7 linked regions of the Homo sapiens genome follow. The protein of the gene in region 5 purifies or fractionates together with the protein of the main gene of each other region. This does not show direct contact. Each region holds a gene or a part of one and is shown on either strand. Other genes may lie near its edges. The genes, in order: RNGTT, VPS50, BCL2L14, PKN3, RPRD1A, SUPT6H and DTX1.

Region 1 (4,240 bases), on a different chromosome or scaffold from region 5:
AATTATTCTTGGATTTGGAATTTTACAAAAACAATTTGCACATGAAAATGTAGAAGAAACAGGAAACTACAGGACTGTTTTAATTAACAAAAAAAAACAGATATGGCAACTATAATTCTAGCCCAAGTAAATTGACATCATGAATCATACTGCTATTTTTAAAACTTCACAAGAATCTATTATGCCGCTCTCAGTTATCCAAGTTTGAGGTGAAATAAATAGTATTGCTAAGTTAAATCTGTAGATGGTTAAATATCTAATTTTTAAGCATTATTTCCTACCTAGAATGCCCTCAGCCCACGTCCATCAAAAATCTTTCTATAGAAATCTTTCTGTTTCTAATGCCAACTCCTACACAAAACATATTTAGTTCCTAACTAACTAGATGTGATTTATTTCTCCTCTAAACTACCTCAGGACTTAAATACCTCTCTTTGGGTTATTGTTTTATTCAAAGGTCTCTTCCATCATTACCATTCATTCTCCACCCTGCTCAATTAAGCAAAATGTTTCAAGGGTGAGGCCTTCTCCTCAACCCTCTAAGCAATACCCGTACTCTTGGTATAGCAACTCATAATAGGCACTCAACAAACATTAGTTCAATTATAAACTATACTAAACTTTGACAAATGCTATTACTTAAGTCTTTTCCTTTCTTATATTTTATTAATTATAATGCTAAAAAAAGTACCTTAAATAAAGATAACAAAAACTAAAATGTTCCTGCTGTTCCCATGAACCAACTACCAGAGCTGCCACAAATGACTATGACTTTTATGTACTATACAACCCCAAGGGTACCAGTCACATTAACTATGATAGTTAAATCTATACACATATAGATACATATACATGTACATATGTATATATATATCATTTTTATTAGAAAGTGGTATTTTGTTACTCATGCTGTCACAGGAATGAAAATTTACTAGATACAGGAAAAAATACAAAAATCAAAATGTCCAACAAAAGGGAACTGGTTAAATAAATTACAGAACTATTTCTCAAACTTGCCTAATTACAATCACTTGGTCACTTGTACGGACATGTAGGCCCCTGGGAGATTCCAATTCATATGGTCTAGGATATGCTATTGGAAAGGGTCATATTTTAAACAAGCAATTTTTTAACCCTACAATTTTCACAGTCAAGATAGTTTGGAAACCCCAATTTATGGTCTCTATATACACAATGGTAAACCATTCAGACATTTATGTGAAAAAGATGTCCAAAACACATTGCTAAGTGTGGGGAAAAAGACAAGTTACTAACCACATGTAACATATGTTTCTCTTCATGCAAAATTATATAACTATCCATATGTATACATATTTGACCAGAGCACTCATTTAACACCCTTTACATATCTTTAACAAATTTCTCCACCAAAGAAAATATCTCAAAGTCTTACTTATGCTCAAAGATTCAGTTGGCAGATCTCTCTTTAAGAGGACCTTAATTCAATATAAGTATACATAAGAAATAAATGAAATTTAACATCCTAATAAAAGTTAGATTTGGCTGGGCGCAGTGGCTCATGCCTGTAATCCCAGCACTCTGGGAGGCTGAGGCGGGTGGATCACGAGGTCAGGAGTTCAAGACCAGCCTGACCAACATGTGAAACACCTTCTCTACTAAAAATCCAAAAATTAGCCGGGCGTGGTGGCACATGCCTGTAATCCCAGCTACTGGGGAGGCTAAGGCAGGAGAATCACTTGAACCCAGGAGGCAAAGGTTGCAGTGAACCGAGATCCCGCCACTGCACTCCAGCCTGGGCGACAGAGCGAGACTCCGTCTCAAAAAAAAAAAAAAAAAAGTTAGATTTCATTCGAAATTTCTTAACCAACAGAAATACACATTTACTTACAAGGAAAAGAAAAATGGCAATGTTTAATTTTATAGTATACATAAATATGACTTACGCCATCCAAGAGAGTATTTGATAAATGCATACGAAGATCTTTACGAAATGGAAATTCCAGATTTGAAACATGAAATACTGAATTGTCTCTATCAATCATAAAAACTTCATTTGTGCCATCAATCAACATCATGTACCTGTAAATGAAACATTAAAAAGCTAATATTTACAGTATAATATCAAGAACAGGGTCATGAGAAATAACATACTGGTTTTCCATAGACCTTAAACATCTGTAGACTAATGTTCACTGGAGTCTCTTTATCATGTAGATTAAAGTATCACAAATAATAATTTTTTTTTTTTTTTTGGAGACAGAGTCTTCCTCTGTTGCCCAGGCTGGATGGAGTACAGTGGCACAACCTTGGCTCACTGCAACCTCCGCCTCCCAGGTTCAAGCAATTCTTGTGCCTCAGCCTCCAGAGTAGCTGGAATTACAGGTGTGTGCCACCATGCCCAGCTAATTTGTTTGTTTTTTCTTTCTTTTTTTTAGTAGAGATGGGGTTTCACTATGTTGGTCGCGAACTCCTGGCCTCAAGTGATCTGCCCACCTCAGCCTCCCAAAGTGCTGCGATTACAGCGATGAGCCACCACGCCTAGTCCACAAATAATAATTTTTTTAACTTTTTTCATTTCCTATAGAAAACACAGAGTATAGGGAATTCTAAGTTTTTTATGGAGATAATGTGATATTCAGGAGTAACCTTATGAATCCATCCTAACAGAGAATGGTTCTCTAATTTTTATGAGATCTTAAACATTGAAGCCTTTCAAAGTTTACAAAATACACATATACACATATATAAATGTACTTTACTAGCTCAATAACTATATGGATTAGGTATTCTCTCCACTTCAAAATAGAAAAAAGCAGTGAAAAACATTAAGTGATTTGCCATTTGCCAGACTTTAAATTATCCAGTGCTCTTTCTACCATACCTGTTAGCAAAACAGCTAATCCCTCTCTTTGAATCAATATCATGATATAGCCAGGTACCACAATATCAGGTATAACTTTTCTTCTCATTTATGACTATAAAATTAAAATATTTTTAAACACAGCCATAAGATTTTCAATTATCTCTTATCTTCTTAAACTCAATCAACATATGGGGGAATTCATACACTTAACAACCTGTCATTCTTCAAATGGTTAGGTTATCATCACTGATTTCCCATCAGCAAATCAAGAATGGAGTTCTATTTCACACCACATATAAAGTCCAGATGGACTGATGTTGAAGACATTACAGTCTGGGAAGCTATGCTACCAAATGGATAATAAGAAGACTTGGGGTGAAAATGAAGATCAAATCCAAGAACCAAAGTCTTCAAAGAATGAGAAAAAATTTATAGCAAAAAAGATTAGAAAGTTAAAAGGCATAAGCCTCAAAGAAACAGAATCATTTTGTTAGGCTGTTTTTGTTTGGTGTTTGGTGTTAAATGAAAGAATGGAAGAAGAGTGGTCTGGAGGTACCAACGAAAATGAAAGAGAACACTGACCAGACTGCCCAACCTCCTACCCGCAAAGTACCTGAGGTATGTCCAAAAAAAAGGCAGCAACGACTGAAAGATGCAGCTGAATCAAGTTAAGATTAGGGGACAGAAGAAATATTACATGAAGACATGCAAGCTAACAGAGTATATGGAAGCTAATATAATAGTGGATAACTGGCTAACCACAAACCAATGTTCTGAAGAGCAAAGTACACATGTTTAGGATAGGTGAGGAGAAATAGGAGAGCTGATGAAGGGAAAACAAGTGTACAAACAAAATGGAAAAGAGCAGCATGGAAGACCAAAGGGGCTTATGTTTTTGGATTAGATTGTGAAGTATGTTGTTCTTTGCTGTTTCCAAAATAATCAGTTCCAAAAAAAAAAAAAGTGAAAAAAGAAAAAGGAAAGGAAAAAAGGCAACATAATAGAAAAAAATTTTTTTAAAGTTTTAATAATAATGATAATTAGTTCCAGCAGGTGTCTGGGGAGCAGATGGAGAGCTCAGGCCCTTGCTATAATAGCTGCAGCCCTAGTAGATGGGGAGTGTGGGGACTCAGGTTTCACTAGGAAAAATAAATTCAGCCTCAGTCTGGACTGACTGTGTATCTGAAAGACTCCTAGACCAAATGCCAGGCCAGCTGGCACACAGACAACAGGAATACTTAGTTCGCAAGACCCTCTGGCACATGCTTTTCAAAAGCAGCAATTCCTGGTGGATAGAGAGAATCTAAGCTACTTGGAAGAAGTAAGCTTTGCCTTGGATTATGTTTCAAAAGGAATTTAAATCAACAAAAGGGAAGATCAAATAAAAAGCAATGA
Region 2 (4,784 bases), on a different chromosome or scaffold from region 5:
CTTGCCCTAAATGTGACCAGAATTTCTTGAAGGGGTTAGAAATAACAGAGTCAGAGAAGCATATAGGTAAACATATAATTTCAAAGGAATTGCTGAACGCAGTGATGATACAAGTATGCACAAGGTGGTTCTGTTGGAGTAGAGAACTGGGCAGAATCAAAACCAATAATACCTCATAATTGTATAGTGCTTTACAATTTATACATTTCATTCACCTACATCATCTCACTTATCCTTACAAAGCCCTATATAAAATATTAAAATATTACAACCTCATTTGTAAAAATTAATAAAACGAGGCTCTAAGGGGTGAGAAAATAGAATTTCAGAATCAGAAATAACCTCTGTTAGTGTCCCCCAAACTTCAGTCATTTGCAAATCACCTTTATTAGTTTTGCCATATCTGACTACCACCCATACTATTGTTTACCTAGTATTTTTTATTACGTTGACACACTTGAACTTTTTTTATTCTAAGAAATATTTTTGAAATTATGGGTCTGTGTCATACTTTTAGAAGTTAACATTATAATAAAATAAACTTAAAAAAATTGGTGCCATGCTTTAGAACTTTCTTCAGCACAATACATGAAAATCTTAACACATCTGATGACCGATTAATCCTTCAGTTTCTACTTGCACATCTGCAGTAATCTTAGGCAAGTTCCTTAATTTCGCCATACCTGCTTCGTCATCTTTAAAATGGGAACCCACAGGATTCTTGTGTGGATAAATGAAATCATATATTTAAAGCTATTAGCAGTTCCTGACAGGTACTCGGCTTTCGATAAGTGTTAGCTATCATTGTTAGCTTTAGGGCTGCTTTTTCTTCTTCTTCTCATATTCTCATAATTGTAAAGTCCTTTTAAAATTGTGTCCCCAAAGACACTTCTGTTCCTTTCCCCAATTTAACTAAACTGCCAAAAGTTGAAAAGAGGACTTTAAAGTGACAGGTATACTCGTTATTGTCGTATTTCCCGTCATCACTGCTTTAGAGTACGGAGGTAAAATAATAGGCGGGCGTCAAAATCCTTCGATTTTAGAGCTTTTGCAGGGGATACCAAGACTGAGGTAGAACAGCCCTAAACCTGGAGGGCCGCCTATTGGGCAACCTAGAGCACACCTTTCCTCAGGCCAAACCCAGCGCGCCCGGGGTAGTCTCGAGTTCTCAGGTTACCCCTCAGTGACAGCCCTTTCTTGAGTTCCTTCTCCTTCGCGTCAGTCTCTCGTTCTCCCACCCCGCCCCTCTAGACCAGGTGAGGTTTCCTCCCTCACACTCCTAGGGGACATCGCGTCAATCTGGCTTATATATTGTCTCCTCTGAGTTTGATCTTTCGCTCAACGCCTAGTCACCTGTGACTTAGGTTTCCGTCTCGCCGAAGAGTAGCTACTGCCTAGTGCAAGCACCTTTGTAAGACCGGCGATCGCAGTGGTCGCTCTGAGCAGTAATATTTACCGGCTTAACTGAAGCACCCGCTCTTTTGCTTGCTGGGAGATGTAGTCCCTGGGTTGGCCACTTTAGTTCATCGTTGCTACCGCCGGCGTCCAGAAGACTACAGTTCCCAGCAGGCCCAGGGAAAGACAGGATACCCTGGGTCGGCTCCTCCACGTGACCACCCACTATGGCTTCCTAGTGTCAGGGCCAGCTGTGTAGTGGCTCGGTGTGATTTGTTAGCTCTTTGAGGCAGGGTACCCTCCTCAGGATTTCGATATGCAAAAAATCAAATCTCTCATGACCCGACAGGTAAGTCGCGGCGGCTGAAGCAAAGGCTTCCTTCATCTCGGAAGTGAGAGGAGCCGAGATGTTCTGTCCCCAACCAGTGGCGGGCGGGGATCTAAGTTATGGGTGGTGGCAGGTGTCAGGGGGACTGGGAAGCCGGGGCATACCCTAGAAAACTCACCTGGGCCGCCTGGGTTGGAGCACTGCTCCAGCGGGTACCAGCCTCCCAGAAATATTCGTTTAAAAATAAGTCATTGAAGGAATCAGGGTATCTTTGTCTCCCCTCCTCCTCTTTTTGCCGTCTTTCCAGAACAGCCCGAGCTTCCTTGCAAGGTCTTCCGCATCCAGGCTGTCTGTCATATGCGAGCTGATAGCCTGGGTAGGGTGGTGTGGTCTGTGCAGTAGAGGTGACCTGGAAAGACTGAAAACGGATGATTTGAAGACAGAATTAGTAGCTTTTGGATTTTGGGCAAGTCCCCAAACTTTGTAGCTTACGTTTCTGGATGTGAAAATAATTATTTTTGTTCATTTTACTTCACAGTTCTGTTATGAGGGTCATCGATAAGCTAATATATGTGAAAACTCTTTGTGAAATTCTGCTTTAAAAAATTTATTTTTGTCATGGCAAAATACTGATCTTTTCTTTTTTTTCCCCAGAATGGAAATTCATGAATAAGAGCTTTGGCTATTTTGTAACCTGTCTCATAAATGTTAGGGACCTCGTAATAATGCCTCAGCTTCATTTAAGAAGTGCAGAAATTTTCTTTTATGTACTTATTGATTATGACTTTGTTTTAGCTGCCTTTATTTACTTCAGCTTTAATATTTCACTAGAATTGGTCATTTTATTATTTTAATATGAAAGATAGTTAAGATTAGAGTTTTAAATCAACATGGCTTTTAGAAGTTTGGAGAATGTGGAAGGTAATCGTTTAGTGAAAGGTATATTTGTGAGTTTTTTTCTTGTTGATTACAAAAATAACTCAAATTCCACATTCTTATTTGAGAATTCACAATTTGAGAGATATATAAACAGGATACAAATTGTGTATTTCTCTTGCACAATGCACAAATGACCCTTACATGATTATTTTAGTTATGTCAGAGCATTTTGTTAATGTTATGAAAATATAATCAAAATGTTCTGTGAATAATAAAAATATTTAAGTAAGTGGCTAGTAACATTTGTTAATTCCTCACATGTGTTGAGTACTGGTGTTGTGCGTCCTACTACTTCTTACTTGACGATGAGTTTGGGTCCTGCTGTATCCTGTGGCAGCTGTGTGACTTTCGGCAAGTTACATAACGTTTTTAAGCATCTATTTCCACATCTTTAAAATAGGAATAATGTGTGCCTTATGGAGTTAGCCTGATAGTGGTGTTTACATGATATAATGAAGTTAAAGAGTTTAAGGCGTTAACGGAGTTCCTGGGCATTATCAAGGAAGTGCTTGAACGCAGAGACCGTTAGTTACATTGGCTATGTTGATGGTGGGAAAGCAGGAAAATTGGAAGCAGGCTGTTGCAGTAATTCAAGCAATAGATAAGTTCATGCTGACTTCGGTACCTGTTTGATTTTTAAATCAATATATACTTTTGTACTTTATATCACTAATACCTCTAAACTGCCTTTGGAATGCTGAATTTGGACTTTTGTGCATCAGCTGTTTGATGCTGTCTCAAGTTTGTTGCCTGCCATACAGTTCAGTGTAGTTAACGTTGTCATAATTGTATGGTAGCTGTGGTTGGTTTAGTTTTTTTGACCTCATTTTGTAAAACTGAGGAGAGAAAAAAATTTCAGATAGCAGTGATAAGTGTATGTCTCCTAAATGTAATGCAATTGTGCTGAAAATGGTAACACTTAAGCCTTAGTCAGTTGCTTATTGAATTTCAGCAGGTCAAACCTGTGTTTAATTGAAATGGAAAAAAATACATTAAAGAACACATACAAAAAGCTGGAACCATACTGTGTACAAAGTGAGGTAAAATTAGGAGTTTTGCATACATATTTAAAGTTATCCTAATTATATATGTTATGGCTTGACTTTCACATATTTGATACTGATGCACAGTTCCTGAATCTATGAGGTATGAAATTAGTGTGCCTGCTATTTACATTGAGGGTTTGAATTAGTACAGTTTATTATTGGGTTAAATTTAATAGGATTACAAGTAAGTATACATGAAAGTATTTCTTTTTTTGAACCTATAGAATGTGCTAATAATATATATTGAGTTAATATGGAGAGATAGGAAATTAAGGTCTGTGAAATTTAAGCTTTGGGACATTTCAGCTGTCCTGGGATCTTTGTTTGCAAAATAATGGGAGGAAGGAAGGCTTTGTTAGCTCTCTTTATTTAGATGAGATCTGTTCTTCATCTTTCTCCATCATGCTCACCTCTGTTCTTTCAGTCCATTCAACAAATGTTTATTGAGCAATTTGTGCCAGGTACTATTCTAAGTAAAAAAAAAAAAATAGACAAGTGTTAAGGCAGACACGGTGATAAACACTGTAGAGGAAAAGAGGATAGAAAGTCCTGGGAATTGTTGGTGATTTGAGGTCACTTATAATTTTAGATAGGATGGCCACGGAAGGCCTCACAGAGAAGGTAATATAAAAAAACCTGAAGGGGGTGAGGAAGTGAACTCTGTGAGGTAGATATTTGGGAAGGAGCATTTCCAGTGGAAGGAAAGGCAAATGCAGAGGTCCTGAGGCAGGAGCTTGTTTGAGAAATTGCAAGTGGCCTGTGTGGGTGAAGTGAGTGAGGAGAAGAGTAGTGGGAGATGAGGTTAGGATGAGGTTAGATGACTGAAGGCAGGAAGCTAGATCATGTAGTACCTTATAGGTAATAGCAAGGTCATGGCTTTCATTCTGAGTGAAATGGCAAATAGAGGAATGATATAATTGGACATAACACTTCAGACAGACCATTTGGACCCATGTTTTAAGAACAGATTGAAGAGCGGAAAAGAGCAAAACCAGGGGAGGTGAATGATGAGGCTACTGTGGTAATCCAGGTGAGAGGGTGGGTGTAAGCCTTCCACCCTAGTGGTGGAAGTGTTG
Region 3 (4,240 bases), on a different chromosome or scaffold from region 5:
TCTTTTTTTTTTTTTTTTTGGAGACAGAGTCTCATTATGTCACCCAGAGCTGGGGTGCAGTGATGTGATCTTCGCTCACTGCAGCCTTGACCTCCTGAGCTCAAGTGATCCTTCCACCTCAGCCTCCATAGTAGCTGGGACAACAGGCATGTGCCACCATGCCTCGCTAATTTTTTTATTTTAATTTTTTAATGGAGACAGGGTCTTGCTATGATGCCAGGCTGATCTCAAACTCTTGGTGTCAAGTGATCCTCCTGCCTTGGTTTCCCACAGTGCTGAGAGTATCGACGTGATGGGCTCTCACTCTGTCACCCAGGCTGGAGTGCAGTGGCATCATCTTGGCTCACTGCAACCTCTACTTCCCAGGCTCAAGCCATCCTCCCACCTCAGCCTCCCGAGTAGCCAGGACCACAGGCGTGCACCACCATGTCTGACTAATTTTTTTGTATTTTTTGGTAGAGACAGGGTTTTGCCATGTTGCTAAGGCTGGTCTTGAACTCCTGAGCTCAACCGATCCACCCACCTTGGCCTCCCAAAGTGCTGGGATTACAGGTATGAGCCTCAGTGCCTGGTGAAAATGTTTCATTAAGTACAATTAATTTTGTCCAACTGAGGGAAGATTTTGTCTAAATGCTTCTCAGTTGTTTTTGTAGGATGGTTTGTACTTTGTCAAGAGTCCTTTTACTCTTGCTCTCTGATCTTCCCATCAACCATACGAGGTGGAGAGAGTGGGGTACCCAATGTACAGATGGAAACACAGAGGCCCTGAGCGAATGAGTTGACTTAGGAAGAGCAGCGGCCCAGGCAGCCCAAGCAAGCCCCTGGTTAGGGCTCGTTCTTTTTTTTTTTTTTTTTTGAGACAAAGTCTTACCCTGTAGCTCAGGCTGGAGTGCAGTGATGCAATCTCGGCTCACTGCAACCTCCGCCTCCCAGGTTCAAGCGATTCTCTTGCCCCAGCCTCCCGAGTAGCTGGGAATACAAGCATGCGCCACCATGCCCGGCTAATTTTTTGTATCTTTAGTAGAGACGGGTTTTCACTATGTTGGCCAGGCTAGTCTTGAACTCCTGACCTTATGATCTGCCCACCTCAACCTTCCAAAGTGCTGGAATTACAGGCATGAGCCACTGCGCCTAGCCTCCTTCTTTTATATTGGTGTCTGGTACAGAGGACTAGGAATTTGGGAAACAAGCTTATTTATAGACAGTGGAGAAAGAAAACCAGTCCCAGCACCCTTAACTTCCATCATTTCCTTTTAGTCATTTTTTTTTTTTTGACGGAGTCTCACTCTGTCACCCAAGCTGGAGTGCAGTGATGCCATCTTGGCTCACTGCAAGCTCCGCCTGCTGGGTTCACGCCATTCTCCTGCCTCAGCCTCCCGAGTAGCTGGGACTACAGGCACCCGCCAACACGCCCGGCTAATTTTTTGTATTTTTTAGTGGAGACGGGGTTTTACCGTGTTAGCCAGGATGGTCTCAATCTCCTGACCTCATGATCCACCCGCCTTGGCCTCCCAGAGTGCTGGGATTACAGGCGTGAGCCACCGCGCCCAGGCAGCAACTCCTTTTAGTCTTGAGAAAAGCAGGGCAATTATGATTGAACACTAATAAGTTGGAAAGCTGAGGCACAACGCATGCCTTCTCTAAAGCCACTTTACAACATGAGAAGAGATGTACCACTCTGGACACAAAGAAGGGAAAAACCAGGAAGCGGGAGAGAAAGAAATCCCAGATGCCTACCTTCATGCTCCAAGCACTGCTCCACGTTAGAAAGACACCTGGACCACTGCTGGCTGTGCGAATCTTGGTATTCCAACGTCCTTTGACCCTGAGCAGAGACCTTGGCAGGCGTGCTCTGCGAATCTTCCTTCTCCACTACTCCAAAGAATGCTTTCCAAGAAGACTTTTTCTTGCCAAGGTTTATGGCCTTCTCACTGGATTGGGAATTTCTGCAAGGCCATGACACCTCTGTCCATGACTCATTTGCTGAACAATTCCCCAGGCCCCTCTGGGACAAACTTCTTGTTCTCAGCAGCTTTGGTGAGAAGAGAGCAGGGGTGCTCTTGAAGACATGATGTCTGGTGTAGTAGGCGAGGATTTTGAATTCTATGGTGTTTAGGTCATCATCATCTAGGGGGATTTCTTCCAGGTCACACCCACTGGTGCTACACATGTTGGGCCTGTAACAACAAAGTCCACACTGTGCCCTTCTATGCAGGGCCACTTACCCTTTGCAGGTTAGGAGAGACAGGGGTGAAAACTCAGGAAACATTTATTGAACATCTATTGTGTTTGTGCTGGAGGGTAGAGAGGGAAAAGCCACAGTCTTACTAGGGTGGGAAGAGAGACATGGCCATAGATAACTCCACATAAAGAAAATGAACTGCCGGGTGCGGTGGCTCACGCCTGTAATCCCAAAACTTTGGGAGGCCAAGGCGGGCAGATCATGAGGTCAGGAGTTCAAGACCAGCCTGGCCTATACAGTGAAAGCCCGTCTCTACTAAAGATACAAAAATTAGCCAGGCATGGTGGCGCACGCCTGTAGACCCGGCTACTTGGGAGGCTGCGGCAGAAGAATCGCTTGAACCCAGGAGTCGGGGGTTGTAGTGAGCTGAGATTGCGCCACTGCACTCCAGCCTGGCGACAGAGTGAGACTCCGTCTCAAAAAACAAAAAACAACAGAGAGAGAATGAACTAATGAACTAAGTAAGAGGTCTAACAGAGATGCAGATAGCCAGGTTAGAAGGCAGGGATAGGTGAGCTTCAAAGAAAGAGGCAAGTGAAAGCTTTTGGAAAGCTAGAAGGAGTTAGACAGGTGGGTGGATATTGGGGCTACAACAGGGCGGGCAGAGGGGAGATTATAGGTGAATTCAGAATGTGTTTGAAGAGTGGTGAGAGAACTGGGACAGCATACGTATGCAGTTTGCAAATAGCCAGGGCTTGAAAATAGTGGAGGGAAAATAAGTGAACTAGCACTTGGGTCCAGATTATGGTGGTCTTTGACTATCAGGCTGAAGCTTCGCATTTTCTCACGTTGATCAGTACATTTCAAAATGAGCTGTGGACTGTGGAGTTAAAGGTCTTGCTGGGGAGGTGGCAAAAGAGGGAGGCCAATTCAGGGAAGAGAAATGCCTGGGACCTGACCCTTCCCTTCCTCGGTTCCTTCTCCCTCTACCCTCTGCTTTAGCTTGTCCCGGCTTCTCTCTCCTCTCTCTCTCTCTTTCTTTTTTCTTGCTATATTTGGTATGCCATGTAAGATTTCATCTGAAAAAAGCATCCTGTTATTTTATTTTACTTTTTACGAATTTGAAACACACTGATGGAGGCAATGGAGAGCTGTTCAAAGTTTTGAGTAGAGAGTGATGTGATCACAGGCATGTTTGAAAAAGATCAGTACAAGCACTAAAACAACAGGATGCAAGCATTTCTTCTTTATTTCCATACGAATAACAGGATAGATAAAGAACTGATTTTGTTCAATTTCCTTTGCTTGAGCTTACATGAAATAACTCCTTCTCTGGTTTCCTGCTAGGAAAGCAGTTCTTTTTGCTAATAATCTGTTTCCTTCTGCTGTCTGTTAAGGACTACATTTTCCTTTTAGTCTCAGATGCGAGAAAGCTCAGATCTACCGTGTGAAATGTCCCAGGCAGTGAGCGTATCAAGAATTAGCTTGGGCTTCTCAGTCTAACAGTCCCAAATTCAGATTGTGGCCATGCCAGTGACTAGTTTTGTGACCTGTGGCAGGTTACTCCATCTCTCCAAACATGAACTTCCTGCAGGCAAATTGTAAATAATAATAGTCATCTTGCAGGGATATTGTAAGGGTGTAAGATACACAAGAGAAGTTCCTGCACAGAACCTGGTTCAAAAGTGGTAGCTATGTTTTTTTTCTAGTTCAGCTGTTGTCCTAGGCCCCAGGCTCTCTTTTTTTTTTTTTTTTTGAGACTCAGTTTTGCTCTGTTGCCCAGGCTGGAGTGCAGATCATAGCTCACCACAGCCTCAACCTCCCCGGCTCAAGGGATTCTCTCACCTCAGCCCCTCAAGTAGCTGGGAACACAGGCACATGCCACCACACCTGGCTAATTTTTTTGTTTTGTCTTTTAGAGACAAGGTCTCGCTATGTTGCCCAGTCTGGTGCGAAACTCCTGGGCTCAAGTGATCCACCTGCCTCAGCCTCCCAAAGTGCTGAGATTACAGCCATGAGCTACCATGCCCGGCCTCAGGCTCTGTCTTAATATGGCTC
Region 4 (4,240 bases), on a different chromosome or scaffold from region 5:
CTGGGCCTCAGTTTCCCCATCTGAACAGTGGAGGTGAGTCCCAGCTCTGCCCCACCTCTCCCAATGGATATGAAACGTGTTTTGTCAACGGAGTAAGTTCATGTGTCACGTCACTAGAGGGTTGTCCCTCAAAGGGTAGAGAAAGCAGTGGGGATCTAGCAGCTTTTGAGGACACGAAGCAGGCCCAAGAGTATCATTTAGGGAGAGTCTGGGCCTGGGGGTTACACACAGAGAGAACTTGTAAACAAAGGCAGGGGTCCAGGGTAGAAAGAGAAGCTTAGAAAGAACAGCTCGGCCGGGCGCAGTGGCTCATGCCTGTAATCCCAACACTTTGGGAGACCAAGGCAGGCAGATCACCTGAGGTCAGGAGTTCAAGCCCAGCCTGACCAACATGGCGAAACCCCATCCCAACTAAAAATACAAAAACCAGCCGGGCATGATGGTGGGCACCTGTAATCCCAGCTACTCGGAAGGCTGAGGCAGGAGAATCACTTGAACCCGGGAGGCAGAGGTTGCAGTGAGCCAATATTGTGCCATTGCACTCCAGCCTGGGCGACAGAGCAAGACTCCAGCTCAAAAAAAAACAAACAAAACAAAAACTTGAGGCCGGGCGTGGTGGCTCACACCTGTAATCCCAGCACTTTGGTAGGCTGAGGCAGGTGGATCACCTGAGGTCGGGAGTTCGAGACCAGCCTGGCCAACATGGTGAAACTCTGTCTCTACTAAAAATACAAATATTAGCCGGGCATGGCGGTGGGCGCCTGTAATCCCAACTACTTGGGAGGCTGAGGCAGGAGAATCGCTTGAACCTGGGAGGCGGAGGTTGCAGTGAGTCAAGATTATGCCACTGCACTCCAGCCTGGGCGACAAAGCAAGACTCTGTCCCCCACCCCCCCCAAAAAAAAGGCCGGGCGTGGTGGCTCACACCTGTAATCCCAGCACTTTGGGAGGCCGAGGTGGGCAGATCACGAGGTCAGGAGATCAAGACCATGGTGAAACCTCGTCTCTACTAAAAATACAAAAAATTAGCCGGGCGCAGTGGCGGGCGCCTGTAGTTAGTCCCAGCTACTCGAGAGGCTGAGGCAGAAGAATGGCGTGAACCCGGGAGGCAGAGCTTGCAGTGAGCCGAAATCACACCACTGCAATCCGGCCTGGGCGACAGAGCAAGACTCTGTCTCCAAAAAAAAAAAAAAAAGAGGTGGGGCGAGGTGGCTCACGCCTGTAATCCCAGCACTTTGGGAGGCCAAGGCGGGCAAATCACCTGAGGTCGGAAGTTCGAGACCAGCCTGACCAACATGGAGAAATCCCATCTCTACTGAAAATATAAAAATTCGCCAGGTGTGGTGGTACATGCCTGTAATCCCAGCTATTCAAGAGGCTGAGGCAGGAGAATTGCTTGAACCCGGGAGGCGGAGGTTGCAGTGAGCCAAGATTGCGCCACTGCACTCCAGTCTGGGCAATAAGATCGTGTCACTGCACTCCAGCCTGGGCAATAAGAGCAAAACTCCATCTCAAAAAAAAAAAAGGACAACTCAAGTATCTGGGGTGTTTAGCCAGGGGACAGGATATGGGGTGGCCTTGAGTAGTTGACTTCTAGGCCTTTTAACAAGCTGTTTCTTCTGCGTTCCTCAACTTGTCTACTTGGCCATAAGTACTCCCGTGTAAGTCCTTCAAGGCCAAGACACCACCTCCTCTAGAAAACATTCCTTGGGCCGGGCATGGTTGGCTCACGCCTGTAATCCCAGCACTTTGGGAGGCCAAGGCAGATGGATCACCTGAGGTCAGGAGTTTGAGACCAGCCTGGCCAACATGGCAAAACTCTGTCTCTACTAATAATACAAAAATTAGCCAGGCATGGTGGTGCAGGCCTGTAATCCCAGCTACTCGGGAAGCTGAGGCAGGAGAATTGCTTGAACCCAGGAGGCGGAGGTTGCAGTGAGCTGATATCGCACCACTGCACTCCAGTCTGGGCGACAGTGCGAGACTCCATCTCAAAAAAAAAAGAAAAGAAAATATTCCTCGATTCCCCAAGGCCAGGTGAGAGGGCTCCATCCAGAGCCTGCATTTCCTCTTCTCAGCTCTGCTCACAATGGAATGGGGTCAGTCGGCCCTGTAGCAGTGCTCTGTGGAGACAGGCACTGGCCTTTCCAGCTCTCACTGTATCTCGGTGGGATACAGCTTCAAAGCCCATGCTCTCAGATTATTTGTTGATGATGATTTGGCTGCTGCTACAAGGAGACAGATCTCAGTGCAAGATAAGAAAATTAACTTTTTTGGCCGGGCGCGGTGGCTCACACCTGTCCCAGCACTTTGGGAGGCCTAGGCCGGCAGATCACAAGGTCAGGCGATCGAGACCATCCTGGCTAACACGGTGAAACCTTGTCTCTACTAAAAATACAAAAACAAAAAATTAGCCAGGTGTGGTGGCGGGCACCTGTAGTCCCAGCTACTCGGGAGGCTGAGACAGGAGAATGGCATGAATCCGGGAAGAGGAGCTTGCAGTGAGCCGAGATCGCGCCACTGCACTCCAGCCTGGGTGACAGAGCTCAGAGTCTCACTCTGCTCGGAGTCTCACTCTGTTTGGAGTCTCACTCTGTCACCCAGGCTGGAGTGCAGTGGCACAATCTCAGCTCACTGCAAGCTCCGCCTCCCAGGTTCATGCCATTCTCCCACCTCAGCCTCCCGAGTAGCTGGGACTACAGGCGCCCGCCACCACACCCAGCTAATTTTTGCAAATTTTTTTTTTTTTTGAGACAGAGTTTTGCTCTTGTTGCCCAGGCTGGATTCCAATGGTGCCATCTTGGCTCACTGCAACCTCCACCTCCCGGGTTCAAGCAATTCTCCTGCTTTAGCCTCCTGAGTAGCTGGGATTATAGGCATGCACCACCAGGCCCGGCTAATTTTGTATTTTTTAGTAGAGACGGGGTTTCTCCATTTTTGTCAGGCTGCTCTCGAACTCCCGACCTCAGGTGATCCACCCACCTCGGCCTCCCAAAGTGCTGAGATTACAGGCATGAGCTGCCGTGCCCAGCCTAATTTTTTTTTTTTGAGACGGGCTCTCTGTTGCCCAGGCTGGAGTGCAGTGGCGCGATCATGGCTCATTGTACCCTCAACCTCCCTGGGCTCAAGCAATCCTCCCACCTCAGCCTCCCAAGTAGCTGGGACTACAGGTACGTACCATCATACCTGGCTAATTTTTTTATTTTTTTATTTTTTTTTGAGACAGAGTCTCGCTGTGGCCCAGGCTGGAGTGCAGTGGTGCGATCTCGGCTCACTGTAGGCTCCGCCCCCCGGGGTTCCCGCCATTCTCCTGCCTCAGCCTCCCGAGTAGCTGGGACTACAGGCGCCCGCCACCACGCCCGGTTAATTTTTTGTATTTTTAGTGGAGACAGGGTTTCACCGTGTTAGCCAGGATGGTCTCGATCTCCTGACCTCGTGATCCGCCCGCCTCGGCCTCCCAAAGTGCTGGGATTACAGGCGTGAGCCACCGCGCCCGGCGATTTTTGTATTTTTTGTAGAGATGGAGCTTTGTCATGTTGCCCAGGCTGGTTTCAAACTCCTGGACTCAAGTGATCCACATGCCTCACCCTCCTAAACTGCTAGGATTATAAACATGAGCCACTGAGCCAGACCAGAAAACTCTTTCTTTTTTTTTTTTTCTTGAAAGAGTTTTGCTGTGTCACCCACGCTGGAGTGCAACAGTGCAATCTTGGCTTACTGCAACCTCTGCCTCCCAGGTTCAAGCAATTCTCTTGCCTCAGCCTCCCCAGTAGATGGGATTACAGGCATGCGCCACCACGCCCGGCTAATTTTTTTTGTTTCTAAAGATGAGGTTTCACTATGTTGCCCAGGCTCGTCTAGAAATCCTGGGCTCAAATGATTCGTCCACCTCAGCCTCCCAAAGTGCTGGAATTACAGGCTTGAGCCACTGTGCCCAGCCAAGAAAACTTTCTTTTTTTCTTTTTTTTTTGAGACTGGGTCTCAAAAAAACTCCTGAGCTCAAGCAATCTTCCCACCTCAGCCTCTCAAAGTGCCAGGATTATAGGTGTGAGCCACTGCACCCAGCAATTTTAGTTTAATTTTATTATTTTTTTTCCAAGGAAATTATTATTATTATTTTTTGAGATGGAGTCTTGCCCTGTTACCTAGGCTGAAGTGCAGCGGCGCAATCTCAGCTCACTGCAACCTCACCTCCTGGGTTCAAGCAATTCTCCTGCCTTAGCCTCCCGAGTGGCTGGGA
Region 5 (4,240 bases):
AACGGGAGGATCACTTGAGCCCAGGAGTTTGAGACCAGCCTGGGCAATATGGCAAACACGGTCTCTACAAAAAATACAAAAAAAATTATTAGCCAGGCATGGTGGTGTGCACCTATAGTCCCAGTACTCAGGGGGCTGAAGTGGGAGGATCGCTTAAGCCCAGGAGGCAGAGGTTGCTGTGAGTTGAGATCATGCCACTGCACTCTAGCCTGGGTGAGAGAGTAAGACCCTGTCTCAAAAAAATAAATAAATAAATAAAAGTTTATCTAAATGTGTATTATCCTGTCTACCTCCAGAAAGGACTTATGAACAGAAATGTTCAATTTGAAAAGTCAAATAATGCTGTTCTACATAACACCACATTCAAATGATTACAACAGCTAAAACCTATGTCTATATTCTTGGTACAGCTCCTAGTAAATTCTACATATACTTCAAATCTTAAACCAAAGGACCCTTCCCTGATTCCATAAACTAGGATAGGTTCCCAATTACATTTCTCCTTTGTATTACTGTGCAGTTACTAGTTTGGCAAAGTCCATTTGCCTGGCTGATATGTAAGCTCCATGAACACAGCTGTATGTCCCTTTATCTGCTCAATCATCCTTGTTCACTAAGACAGTAAGGAGGTCAACAAGTATTTCTTGAATAAAGAAACCTAATAGAAGAAACTTCTTGTATTTTTTGTGACAGGGTCTCACTCTGTTGCCCAGGCCAGACTGCACTGGTCAGATCATGGCTCATTGCAACCTCTGCCTCCAGACTCAAGCAATCCTCCTACCTCAGCCTCCTGGGTAGCTGGGACTACAGTCATGCACCACCACACCCTGTTAATTTTTGTATTTTTAGTAGAGACAGGGTTTTGCCACGTTACCCAGGCTGGTCTCAAACTCCTGGCCTCAAACAATCCACCCGCCTCAGCCTCCCAAAGTGCTGGCTGGGATTACAGGCATGAGCCACTGCGCCCGGCCAGAAAACCAACAGAAGAAACTTCTACTTGTACATTTTGAATGAAAAATTTATTTTATCAAGAAAAAAAGCCTGTAAAATTACAGATTGTTTGTTTAATGTAGGAACACACTTTTATTTTTATAAGAAATGTAGAGATAATTTGTTGAATCAGATGTAAAAACATCAAATCAACAACTTTTTTTAAAAAACCTTAACGTCACAGGAAAGAGAACCTAAATAAAATTACGTTACGGGCCAAAGGGAAATTTTATAAATTCAGTTTCTGCTTTTCTGGGGAATTAATATTTTAGAGGGATATGTCTGCTTAAGGCAAAGCAATGTATCCTAGTCTCTTGATCTAATTATCAATATTCAGAAAATGGTCCACTTCTCAGCCAACAGTCTGTGGATTCCAGGGGGTCAAGACACTTTCATGGGGTCAATTAAGTCAGAACTACTTTCACAAGAATGCTCATCTATTATTTGCCTTTTTTCACTCTCATTCTCTCACAAGCGTACAGTGTTGTTTTGCAGAGGTCATGTGATACAGCAAGACTGAATGCAGAAAAAGACACGAGAATTCAGCAGGCTTCTATTAAGAGAGATCTTATAAAGATCTGGAAAAATGTAAAATAATCACTCCTTTCCCTGGTATTTTTTAGCAAATATAATTGGTTTTCATTAAAAATGTTATGTTACGATAATTGCATGAGGTAATGGATACTAACTACCCTTATTTGATCATTAGACCAACATATACATCTATCAAAACATCAAACTGTATCCCATAAATACATACAATTACAATGTGTCCATTTGTAATTTTAAAAATCTTTTTTTTTTTGAGATACAGTCTGTCACCCAGGCTTGGAGTAATCTCAGCTCACTGCAACCTCCGCTTCCCGGGTTCAAGTGATTCTTGTGCCTCAGCCTCCCAAGTAGCTGGGATTACAGATGTGCACCACCACGTCTGGCTAATTTTTAAATTTTTAGTACTGACATGGTTTTGCCATGTTGCCCAGGCTGGTCTCAAACTCCTGACCTCATGTGATCTGCCTGCCTCAGTCTCCCAAAGTGCTGGGATTACAGGCATGCACCACCATACCTGGCCTTAATTAAAAATTTTTAAAATATTATTTAACATGAATCGATTTAGTATTATAGTTTTAAAACAAATAATTATTAAATAAATTTTTAAGTGTTTTAATTTCCAATGTAGTAACTAGCGGTAGATATAACCCACATAAACAAAAGATTTAGAATCTTCAATTTTTAAGAGTAAAGAGATCCTCAAACCAGAAAGTAGGAGAAATTCCTGGTCTAGAATAAGAATTTCTTTGGAACAACCAATTTGATTTTTTCAAAGAATACATTTAAAATAAAAGACAGATGGCACCCATAGATGTAAAGGAACTTTATTTACATAGTAATCAATTGCAATAAATGAACTTTACTTGGATCCTGATTCAAACAAATGGCTTCTAAAAAAGTGAAATGATCACGGAAATAAATACTGGCTCAATATTTGATATCTTAAGAAATTAAGTTTTTTTAAGTGTTAAGAAAGACTATAACTATTGAAGCTGCAAGATGACTACATGGGAGTCACCATGTCAGTTTGACAACATTAATCCTTTTAAATATAAGAACTTAGAAGGTGCTAGCATTGTCTACTTACTTTTTCAATTCTAACTCTGAAAGAGAAACAAGTAACAGTATCAGACAATATAAAAGCCACTGAACTGTCAATTTAAAACAGACTCTCTTCATTTTTAGGATTTATATTGCTATATATTTTTAAAGCAAATGAAAAATGTTCTTTTGGCCGGGTGTGGTGGCTCGCGCTTGTAATCCCAGCACTTTGGGAGGCCAAGGTGGGCGGATCACGAGGTCAGGAGATCGAGACCATCCTGACTAACACGGTAAAACCCCCATCTCTACTAAAAATACAAAAAAATTAGCCAGGCATGGTGGCGGGCGCCTATAGTCCCAGCTACTTGGGAGGCTGAGACAGGAGAATGGCATGAACCCGGGAAGGTGGAGGTTGCAGTGAACCGAGATCGCGCCACTGCACTCCAGCCTGGGCAACAAAGCGAGACTCTGTCTCAAAAAAAATAAAAAAGAAAAATGTTCTTTCACTTCTCCATTTTTCTAAAACCAAATTAATAAGAACAGCCAAGAATATACAGTACTTATTTTAGCACATCTTACAAGTTTAAGCCGTATTAGTGAATACGAATGTTAATTCAACGAATATTTAAAAACTTTCATCAAACGCAGTATGCTGGGGAGCTAAAAATTGAAATAGGTAAACAACCTGAAGGAGCCCACTATCTACTTCACAACCAATATGTAACCCCCCAACCTATAATACAATATAAAATGGTAATTAGTTCCCTGAAAGATATCTAACATAGCTTATTGAAAAAGTGATGATTTCAACAAATGATTACAAATAGGAGGAAAATCTAAACCTTAAATAATGTATTATTTTAATTGTTGCCAACCCTAGAAAAAATAAGCCCAGCATGGTAGTGTGCACCTGTAGTCCCAGCTACTCGGGAGGCTGAGGCAGGAAGATCACCTGAGCCCAAGAGTTCAAGAGCAGCCTCGGCAACATAGTGAGACACTGTCTCATAAAAAAAAAAAAATTTAGGAAACAAAGTTAACAGGCATTCAAAGGCTGACCATTTCCAGGTTTGGCTCTTTGCATCCAAAGCTATGTATCACCTCAGCACTTTCACATATTCCCAGTGGCTGCAGGCCCAAGCCCCCCTACCCCCGCAACTTGTTCAAAGAGGTCTTTTATTAAACGTCACCTTGCAGAGATGATTTCCCTCTAACTAAAGATTTCCTCCTTCAAAGAACTAAACACGAAATTTATATTTAAAATTTTTTGTTTATTGGTTGCCCTTACCACAAGACTATAAATTCTGAGGGCAGGGATAAACTGTTTTCCCTTTGTTTTCTTTACCATTGTAATACACAATCAATAAATACAGGGTGAGTAAACATACTTTAAGGGGTTGAGGCACTTACAGTTTTGTTAAGACACCAATATAACATAAAAGAGGCTGGTACAAAGGATACAATCACTAGACTAGGGAAGGCAGTGACCTTCACCAACTACAAAGAATTTCCTCCTATCTATCTTGTTTTGTACAGCTCTTATAGAGATCTTTCAGCGAGTGTGTGTAGAAAAGAGCCCAAATGTTAGTGTTGGTTTCTAAGTTCAGGTATGTTCATGGTCAATATTTCTACAGAAATGAATATAAATTAATGATGTATA
Region 6 (4,240 bases), on a different chromosome or scaffold from region 5:
AAAGAGATGCGGTATAGTAAGCCTAGGGGTTAGGGTGATGCTCCCCCATGACCCCAAGATCTCTATCCTTAAGGTCATTTAGCTTGAGCACTGCCAAAAGTGAAAGTCTTAAACTTCTGCCAATTAAATCTAGAGCTCTAATTTTAATTTTGACATTGCTCCCCCTCAGCCCTGAACTGAGCCATTAAAAACAGATTTGAGTACGGCAGCCCCCACACATAGCTTGTTCTAATTAGGCTATCAGACCCACAAGTTCAATCTTTTAAGGCCTCAACATCTTCAAATTAAATGCCAGCTCCTGCAGACCAGATGCCCCTCAGCCTACTTAACAGAGAAACACACAGCCTACCTGATGAAAACAACAGCTTTCTTCTGTCTCAAGGGCAGCTGGTGCTCCATGCTGCACACAGCTTGGAAAGATAGCTGTGTTCTCTTTCTTCCCATCGCCTAGGTTAGCAATAAAGCACACACTATGCTATAGCTGGGGAATGCCTCCAATCTAGCTCAATACCAAGACTTCCAGTTATAAGAGGTGTGCCAGAAGCAATTCTGACTTGCTGCAACTTGCAGGAGCTAGATGTGCAGACTGCAGTAGCACTGCAGTCTGAGACTGACAAGCGGGAACTACTCTAGAATAAAGACACTAATGTATTTATTTGTGTATGATTATTATTAATACATGGTATCTATGATGAGCCTGATGTAGTTTGGATGTTGTATTTAGCACTTATGCTCTTAAAATTTTCCCCATACTCACACTGTAAGTTAAATTTGCAACTGGAATAGGTCTAGAAGGGCAGTGGGGAGATGGAGGGAGAGGTTTCTCTAGTCAGAAGCACAGCTGCAGAACAAGATGTGGCTCAATGGGAGAGGCTGGTGGTTACCATGACATTCGCTGGAAGAGGAATGGAACTGGGATCAGATTGCCACAAGGGAGGCCCTCTGCAGTCCCTCCCTTTGAACAAGAAGTTGTAGTAGGCAATTAAGAGGAGACCAGAGTGAAAAGAGATCTAGTCTGTTAATTCCTTCCACTTTGCAGCTTCAATTAACATTTGCTGGGTTTTTTTTTTTTAGAGTCAAGCTCTGTGCTGGGACTTGTGTATATAAAAATGAGTAAAATATGCTTCCTACCCCGGTGGAGTTCACAGTCTTGGTGGAGTTCACAATCTATCTCAAAAAACTTGTTAATAACGTTATGACAAAGCACAATAGGGTTATGTTAAGTTATATAACTGGACTATGAGAGCAATGGGAAGGTTGGGGAATATCTGAGAAAAGGTGATGCCTGAATAAAAGAGGATTTAAGAAAACAGTCTGGAAAAAGGCAACATGAGCAAACATTTAGGCGTGGTGCTCTGGAGAACAGCCCCAGAAGTCTAGGGTGGAGTTTAAGCTACAAGACATTCCATGTTGTCTTGTATCATATATACATATATATATATAAAACACACACACACACACGTATTTATATATATATACACATATACATATATACACACACATATATACACATATACATACATATGTATACACACACACATACATATATATATATATATATATATATATATATACACACACACACTTTTTTTTTTTTTTTTTTTTTTTTGAGACGGAGTCTTGCTCAGTTACCCAGGCTGGAGTGCAGTGGCATGATCTGGGCTCACTGCAAGCTCCGCCTCCTGGGGTCACGCCATTCTCCTGCCTCAACCTCCCAAGCAGCTGGGACTACAGGTGCCCACCACCACGCCCAGCTATTTTTTTTTTTTTGTATTTTTAGTAGAGACGGGGTTTCACCGTGTTAGCCAGGATAGTCTCAATCTCCTGACCTTGTGATCCGCCCGTCTCAGCCTCTCATAGTGCTGGGATTACACTTGTATCCTATATTTTATGGGCAAGGGACTAGGACTATTCCAAAGGTATCCATAAGTGAATATCCAATTTGGAATTTCAAAACCTAAAAGTTTAATAGATAAAAGTATTTAGAGTCTACTTAAGTCCTTTTAAATCTGGAATTCAGAAGGCTTTGTAATTAAAAAAACCCTGAAAACCTAATTACATGAAGTCAAGATGTTAAAATACAGAAAAAGTTAATTTTGTTCATTTAAAAATATTATTTATTCGGCTGGGCGCGGTGGCTCACGCCTATAATGCCAGCACTTTGGGAGGCTGAGGCAGGCTGATCACTTCAGGTCAGGTCAGACGCTCGAGACCAGCCTGGCCAGCATGATGAAACCCTGTCTCCACTAAAAATACAAAAATTAGCCGGGTGTGGTGGTGCACGCCTGTAATCCCAGCTACTCAGGAGGCTGAGGCAGGAGAATCGCTTGAACGTGGGAGTCAGAGCTTGCAGTGAGTCGAGATCATGCCATTGCACTCCAGCCAAGGTGACAGAGCGAGACTCCGTCTCAAAAAAAAAAAAAAAAAAAGTATTCCTTTTCTTTCCACATTTCTTTAGAGAAACAGGGTAAGGGCTAAAGAAGAGTACAACTGAAATATGTAACCAGATTCAGAACCCCTGCAACACAAAGAGAGATTAACAGTTACTGAACCTTGTGGTACACACATTGAGGAGCGCATAGTTCCTGCTCTAGCACAGGGGTTGGCAAACCTTTCCTTTTCTCTATAGGGCCAAATCTGCCACTGTAGCACAGCATACATAACATGTAAATGAATGGGGGTGACCTTATTTGGCTCACAGGCCTTAGTTTGTGACCCCTGATTTAGAGAATTGATGATAAGAATAGCATGGGATCCTGTAATAAGACAACCTAACCTGGTTTTGAGGAAGTGACTTTAAACAAAGACCTTAAGAGTAAGGAGGAATTAGTTCAGCAGAGGAGCTGGCTTCTTTGGAGATGGTTTGGGGAGTGATGTCAGAGACGTGTGCTTCTAGCACAACACGTGTACTGTGGCAGGTACAGAGAAGGCCCAGGAGAGGAAGAATGGTTCATAAGGGTTGGAGAAGTCATAAGGATCTAGGCACTGGGAAGCCATTGCAGGGTTTTAAATGTAGAACTGAACTTAATCTACTTGCTAATCCAACAAAAACTTATTATTTTCTGAGATGGGGTCCTGCTCTGTCACCCAGACTGGAGTGCAGTGGTGTGATTACATCTCACTGCAGCCTCCACCTCCTGGGCTCAAGCCATAATCTCACCTCAGCCTCCCAGGTAGCTAGGACAAATACATATACATATACATATACGTTTTTTTGAGACAGAGTCTCGCTCCATTGCCCAGGCTTGGAGTGTAGTGGCACGATCTCAGCTCACTGCAACCTCCGCCTCCCAGGTTCAAGCAATTCTCCTGCCTCAGCCTCCCAAGTAGCTGGGATTACAGGCACCCACCACCACGTCCAGCTAATTTTTTCTTTGTATCTTTAACAGAGACGGGGTTTCACCATGTTGGCCAGCCTGGGCTCGAGCTCCTGACCTCAGGTGATCCGCCTGCCTCAGCCTCCCAAAGTGTTGGGATTATAGGCGTGAACCACCATGCCTGGCATAAATATGTATTTAATGAGTGCCTACCACATGCCAGGCACGTACAAGACTAGGTCCATGCCCCTAGGATGCCCGTATTCTGGTGCAGGAGACATATTGGCAACAAATAAAATAAACCTTGCTCTAAAAGCGAAGAAGGAAATGCATATTCTCATCTCATCTAAAGTGAGTTTACTTAGGCTGAGATGTCAATAGGTAGGATATGACCTGTAGAAGTAGGAGGAGAGGTTCCAGTAGAGAAAGTGGGCAAGAACATGGTATATAATAGGTGATGTCCTGAGGCTGATGGCACTAGAGCATGGTGAAGGCAGCAGCCTATGAGGGAGAGGTATGCTCAAGCAGGGCGTAAAGGCCATGGAAAGTCACTGGAGAGTTTTAAGTAGGGAAATGACATGATCTGCCCTGATCCAATTCTGTTACATGGAAAATGAACTGGAGGAAGATCTGAGTGGAAACCAGGGAAAACTGAAGATACTGTTGTGGTAGCCCAGGCAAAAGATGGTGGTGGCTTGGAATAAGGTGGTAAAAGTGAAGATGGAGAATAGAAGACAGATTACAAAAACATTCTGCAAGTGGAAGTGACAAGACTTACTGAAAGACTGGGGAAGAGGAGTAGTAAAGGAGAAGAACAAAGATGATTCTCAGAGGTCTATCTTTGGTAACCCTGCGGATAGGAGCACCACTCAGTGAAACGGGAGGATAAGGTTTGCAATGATGAGAAAACCAAAACTTTCTTT
Region 7 (4,930 bases), on a different chromosome or scaffold from region 5:
CTGTGTTTCCAGACATGGTAAGCACTCTGTGGGTACCTAGCAATGTTCCGGACTATTGGAAAGTTCAATCATTGCAGAAACTTATATTGGACTGTGCTAGTTAGAAAGGCTGGCCTCCTTTCTAACTAGCATGGTGTAATAGAACTTTCTGCAACAATGCAATGTTCTGGATCTACACTGGCCCACAAGGTACCACAAGACACATGTGGCTATGAGCACTTGAAGTGTGGCTAGTGAGACTGAAGAACTGGATTTTACATTTTACTTAGTTTTAATTAATGTAAATTTAAGTAGCCACATGTGGTTGGTGGCTAACATATTGGTTGGCACAGCTCTAGAGGGAAAGCGAGCATCCTACCAGCCTGGGGTTATTACGTGTGGTTCTGTCATCCAGGGATTCATAGGAACTTCCCCAAACCCCATCAGCTGGTCCTTGGGGGGTCAAACATGCCAAGGATTTCTAGGCTGCTTCTGCACGGCAGGACCCCACCAGTCCCCACTGCCCATGGAGCTTGTCACAGATACCACCGGGCAATGACTCAGGGAGATCTCCCCAACGATGACAAATCTCCAGAACAAAAGAGAGTAGGCCTGAGAGTGGGACCTCATCGATTTTATCTCCATCATCAGCCATCACATTACCACCAACGCAACCATCAACATCACCATCATTACAACCACAACAGGATCACCAATACCACTAAGTAACAGCCACACACAGGGCTACCAGCCACACCACATGGCCACGAAGACTGCCACCAACATCATTCTCTCATTTTCTCCATCATCACCACCCCATCACACCACTTCCAGCACCACCACCAACACAACTATCAATGTCACCAACACCACTGAATCCCATGGTTAACGCTATCACTGACATCACCACCAACACTGCCACGTCACCATCATCCATCCCTCCATTGTCACCAAGACCCCACCACCATCAATACTATCACTGAGTCACCACCAACACAACCGCTAACACTGTCTCCTCCATCATTGCCACCTCACCCCACCATCAACACCACCAACGCCCCCCATCCCCAATTAATTACCACCAGCACGACTCCACCCCACAAACCAACACTTGGAGCCAGTATAGGATACCAGTTAAGAACTTTGGTTCTGGAACTCAACCGCCTGGGTTTAAATCCCAGCTCTGAGTTTAAATCACTCAGCTTCTGGGAGACTCGGTTTCTTCATCTATAAAATGGGACTCATAATAATACAACAATACACAGACTTACTGCCTGTGATTCTTGGGAAAAATCAAATGAGGAAGTGCATGTAAAGCCCTTATTCTACAATCCCATGCTACTGCTGTTCTAGGTTCTGTGCTCAGTGAGCACAATTTTATTTAATCCTCACTCAGCTGTGAGAGATATTGATCTACCCATTTTGCAGATGAGGAAACTGAGGCTCAGAGAGATGATGCAACTTGCTCAAGGCCCTACAGCTTGCTCAGAGGCTGCATTGGAATCCAAGTCTTAAACTGGACAAGGTTAGACTGCCCTGTTTTTCTGGAGGTGAGGCAGGGAGATGGGGAAGGGATTTGGCATCAGCAGATTTACTGGGATTTTCAGCATCCTACGCTGCAAGGTAGTGATGGCTCGGCGGGGCGGGTGGCATGGGGTGGGTGTCTGCTCACCTGTGTCCTGGCGAAACTGGTGCATGGACTGCAGGTCGATGATGTAGGGCACAAGCTGGGCGTCCACCTGCCCCAGGACCACGGAACCGCGAGCGTCCTCCTTCAGCACGTTCTCAATGTGGTGGCACACGGTGGCCGTGTAGGGCCGCCAGCGGCTGTGCTCATTCAGCCACTCCCACACCACCACCCGGGCCACGTTCTGCGGTGGGAAGCCCAGACCATTCACAGGCATCAGCCCACCGTGGCCTGGCCGTGACATGGCCGCCACTGCCTCAGGGGCCAGGTCCCCCACTATTGCAGGCCCAGCTCCTCCTGGGCCTGGCAGCAGGCGGCAACTTCCTCTCTCCCCAGGGGGACAGCAAGGACCGTCTGGCCTCCTTTCTAACTCTGGGTTCTCTCTGAGGCCTAGAGACCTCCGTTAAAGGAATGTGGGATGGCCATCCAGGCTGCAAAGACCCCTTCCCTGTAGAGCCTTCTCCGATAAAGGGTGCTGCCCTGGAAAGCAAGTGTCTCTCTTATGCCGGAGGAAACAGCTCTAAAGTCCTTGGCCCCCTCGGCTGGCTCAGGTAGGGAGTGAGGCAGCCGCCCCTGTTCGAGGTCCAGCCTCTTCCGTGTTGTCTCTTGGTCCCTCTTCCCCGCCAGACAGGGCCTGTCACCCAGGAGGCCTGGGCCACAGCCTGCTGCTCCTGCGGCTCTCAGCCAGCCCTTTGCACTCCCAACTGCGTCCCAGACCCTGCGCCCGGCTTCAGTGGGGCTTCTCGCCTCCCTCCGGTCTGGGCCCCCTTCTCCGACGGCTCCTGCCGAAGGGGGCGTCCCTGCCCCCTTGTTCCCTCTCCACGGTGTCCTGGAAGGCCTGGGTGGCCGCAGAACGCACGGGGGAGGGGTGCGGCGTGGACCCTCGGGCGGCGCGCCTGGACTGCGGCTCCGGAGCTGGGCTGGGGGACGAGGGGGACGAGGGGGGCGGGGGCCCGTGGGCACGCCCCACCCCACTCGTGCTCGCGACCTGCCAGGAGACAAGAGGGGAGAGGGCCCTTTAAGAGGAGAGCGCAGCACCCCCTCCCCCCTTCCCAGGAGAGCATTCGGCTGAGAACAATGGGGAACCGAAGGGGGACAGCAAGGGGGGCGTACGGGGTCGCCCCGCCCGCTTTCCCTTGGGGCAGGCCTGGAGGGAAGGCAGGGGCCGGGGGCGCGGTTTTCCGAGACTCTCCGCCTGGGGGGCGCCCTCCTTGGCTCCCGGAGCCTTCCCTTCCCCCGGGGCCCTCGCCCTGCCGGGGGGATGCCGGGTGCGCTGGGGTGCGCCGGGAAGCACGGGGATGCGCGGCGCTGCAGGCGCGGCCCAGGGCCCCTCGGGGGTCGCGTCGCGGAGGGGGCGAAGCCAGGAGCTGGATCGTCTCTGCCTCCCGCCCTGGGGGTAACAGCCCCGCTTCCCCAGCCCAGACGTCCCCGAGCCGCTCGCGGGCCCCCAGCGGGAGCCGGGGGTGGGGTCCCTAAGCACCCGCGTTCTCACCGCCTCTCTTCGTCTCCGGCTCCGGCTCCGGCTCGCGCTCCAGCACCGCCGCCTCCTGGGCTCCCCCCGGAGTGGGAGGGAGCCGCGGTCCCGCCTCCGCGCCCGTTCCCTCCCAGGCCCCTCGGCCGCCGCGCCGAGCTTTCCGCGCGTGGACAGACTGCCCGGCCGACGGACGGACGCAGGAGCCGGCTGGCGGCCGCCGGGATCTCGCGGGTGGGAGGAGGCCTCGGCCGTGCTCCGGGAGGGAGAGGGGAGGGGGCGGAGGAGGAGGAAGGGGAGGAGACAGATCTCGGCCCTGAGCGCCACCGGCGCTGACACGCGAGTCTCGGGGCGCCCCAAATCCTCGGCCAGGCCCTCCCGAGACCCCAAGGGGCCTTCTGACCCCAAGCAGAGCGTGAGGCAGGGAGTGGGATGTTTAGGAGTCACCGGCTTGAATCTTTGTCATCTTTATTTCCAGTCTCCCAGTCCAGGGCCTGGCACTGAATAGGTGCTCAATAAATGCTTGAATGAATGAATAAGATCCAGAGACTGTCTAAAGAAAGATCTTGAAGCATTCAGAGCTAGCCTCCTTTCCTCCTCTAACTATTCCTGGGGGTGGGAGGGTGCTGACAAGGCCTGATTCAGACTCAGTTGGAACCGTGGAATCTGAAGAGTACAGATGAGGAGACTGAAGCCAGAGAGAGTAAGAGCCAGGCCCAGGATCACAAAAGCTTAGAGCGATGCCCAGACACCAACCCCGATCTGAATCTCCTGCCAGTACCCAGTTCCCAGCCCTGAGCCCACTTCCCCCAAAGCACCCACCTGCTCCAGGTGAGAGGGGTGGGACCAGGGGAGGGGACCCTGGCCAGGAGGTGAGATCCTGGAGGAAGAGAAGGGCAGGCCCTCTGCCATGTCATTCACAGCCACCTGCAAACAACTGGTGCTCAATAAATGGTGGGTGAGCATTGGTTGGATGGAAGGGAAGGCTGGAAATGGCAGCGGCTCAAGTGTTAACGGGATGGCCAGTCCCCCTGTCCTCCAGCAAGCTGGATGCGGCTGAGACACACATTGGCTGGGAGGGGGGTGGACCACCTGGGGCCTGGGGGTGTTTAGATTGGGGAAGATGAAGGATGCGTCCGGGAACTCCAGCCTGGGTGGCTGACGGGGGTCAGTGGCCTGTTTGGGCGCCTGCCCAGAGCAGCCCACGCCTGCCTCCCCGGGGCAGATGGGGATACACTAGGCAGGGTCAGGGGCAGGCTGCTCAGGGGTGCTTTCCCAGAATCCAGCTCTGGCTCTCCGGCCAGCTGGAGGGACCTCCCCTCCCCAGGCCCCTGCTCTGACCTGCAGCCCAGTGTTGGATGGGCTTTTTCAGATTGGGTCAATGATTCTGCTTGCTTTCACCTGCTGTAGACTAAAGAGAGAGGCTTTGCATAGGGCAGGGCCAAGTCTGACGATACTCCCACAGGATCACTGAGTTCTGGGATTTTAGCCTAGGGTCCCTGGATGGCCTTCTGGGGTCCATGAAGTCCCCCTCTCCCATTACAGGCAAACTTGTGTGTCTAGGCATTGTGTGTCTTGTATGTCTGGGAAGAAGGGCTCTGGCTGTCAGCAGATTCTTCTCACAGGAGACTGTGACTGAACGGATTCAGAGCAGGTGCTCAACCAGCTTATGTTGTAGAAGGATCTGGGGATCCCACAGTGGAGAAGAGATTGGCTCAAGGTCGCATGGTGATTTAGCAGCAAATTGGAAAGAAGAACTCGTGTCTCTGGACTTCCTGTCGAATGCTATTTAA

The links.
Region 1: the proteins of RPRD1A (region 5) and RNGTT purify together in Homo sapiens (affinity purification with mass spectrometry, with the first as the bait; one large-scale study listed by BioGRID). This does not show direct contact.
Region 2: the proteins of RPRD1A (region 5) and VPS50 purify together in Homo sapiens (affinity purification with mass spectrometry, with the first as the bait; one large-scale study listed by BioGRID). This does not show direct contact.
Region 3: the proteins of RPRD1A (region 5) and BCL2L14 purify together in Homo sapiens (affinity purification with mass spectrometry, with the first as the bait; one study listed by BioGRID). This does not show direct contact.
Region 4: the proteins of RPRD1A (region 5) and PKN3 purify together in Homo sapiens (affinity purification with mass spectrometry, with the first as the bait; one large-scale study listed by BioGRID). This does not show direct contact.
Region 6: the proteins of RPRD1A (region 5) and SUPT6H purify together in Homo sapiens (affinity purification with mass spectrometry; one large-scale study listed by BioGRID and IntAct). This does not show direct contact.
Region 7: the proteins of RPRD1A (region 5) and DTX1 purify together in Homo sapiens (affinity purification with mass spectrometry, with the first as the bait; one study listed by BioGRID). This does not show direct contact.

Annotation. Positions count from the first base shown.
Region 1 is NC_000006.12:88,851,704-88,855,943, forward strand, and holds part of RNGTT (mRNA-capping enzyme), read right to left. Parts: intron 2,062-4,240; coding exon 1,926-2,061; intron 1-1,925.
Region 2 is NC_000007.14:93,230,757-93,235,540, forward strand, and holds the start of VPS50 (syndetin), read left to right. Parts: upstream 1-1,609; 5' UTR 1,610-1,711; coding exon 1,712-1,744; intron 1,745-4,784.
Region 3 is NC_000012.12:12,077,236-12,081,475, reverse strand, and holds part of BCL2L14 (apoptosis facilitator Bcl-2-like protein 14), read right to left. Parts: intron 3,771-4,240; exon of another isoform or gene 3,498-3,770; intron 2,178-3,497; 5' UTR 2,171-2,177; coding exon 1,738-2,170; intron 1-1,737. UniProt on the Homo sapiens protein: Plays a role in apoptosis.
Region 4 is NC_000009.12:128,708,263-128,712,502, reverse strand, and holds part of PKN3 (serine/threonine-protein kinase N3), read right to left. Parts: intron 1-4,240.
Region 5 is NC_000018.10:36,057,376-36,061,615, forward strand, and holds part of RPRD1A (regulation of nuclear pre-mRNA domain-containing protein 1A), read right to left. Parts: intron 1-4,240. UniProt on the Homo sapiens protein: Interacts with phosphorylated C-terminal heptapeptide repeat domain (CTD) of the largest RNA polymerase II subunit POLR2A, and participates in dephosphorylation of the CTD by RPAP2.
Region 6 is NC_000017.11:28,664,740-28,668,979, reverse strand, and holds part of SUPT6H (transcription elongation factor SPT6), read right to left. Parts: intron 448-4,240; exon of another isoform or gene 350-447; intron 332-349; exon of another isoform or gene 1-331.
Region 7 is NC_000012.12:113,055,173-113,060,102, reverse strand, and holds the start of DTX1 (E3 ubiquitin-protein ligase DTX1), read right to left. Parts: upstream 3,374-4,930; 5' UTR 3,159-3,373; intron 2,655-3,158; 5' UTR 1,911-2,654; coding exon 1,652-1,910; intron 1-1,651. UniProt on the Homo sapiens protein: Functions as a ubiquitin ligase protein in vivo, mediating ubiquitination and promoting degradation of MEKK1, suggesting that it may regulate the Notch pathway via some ubiquitin ligase activity.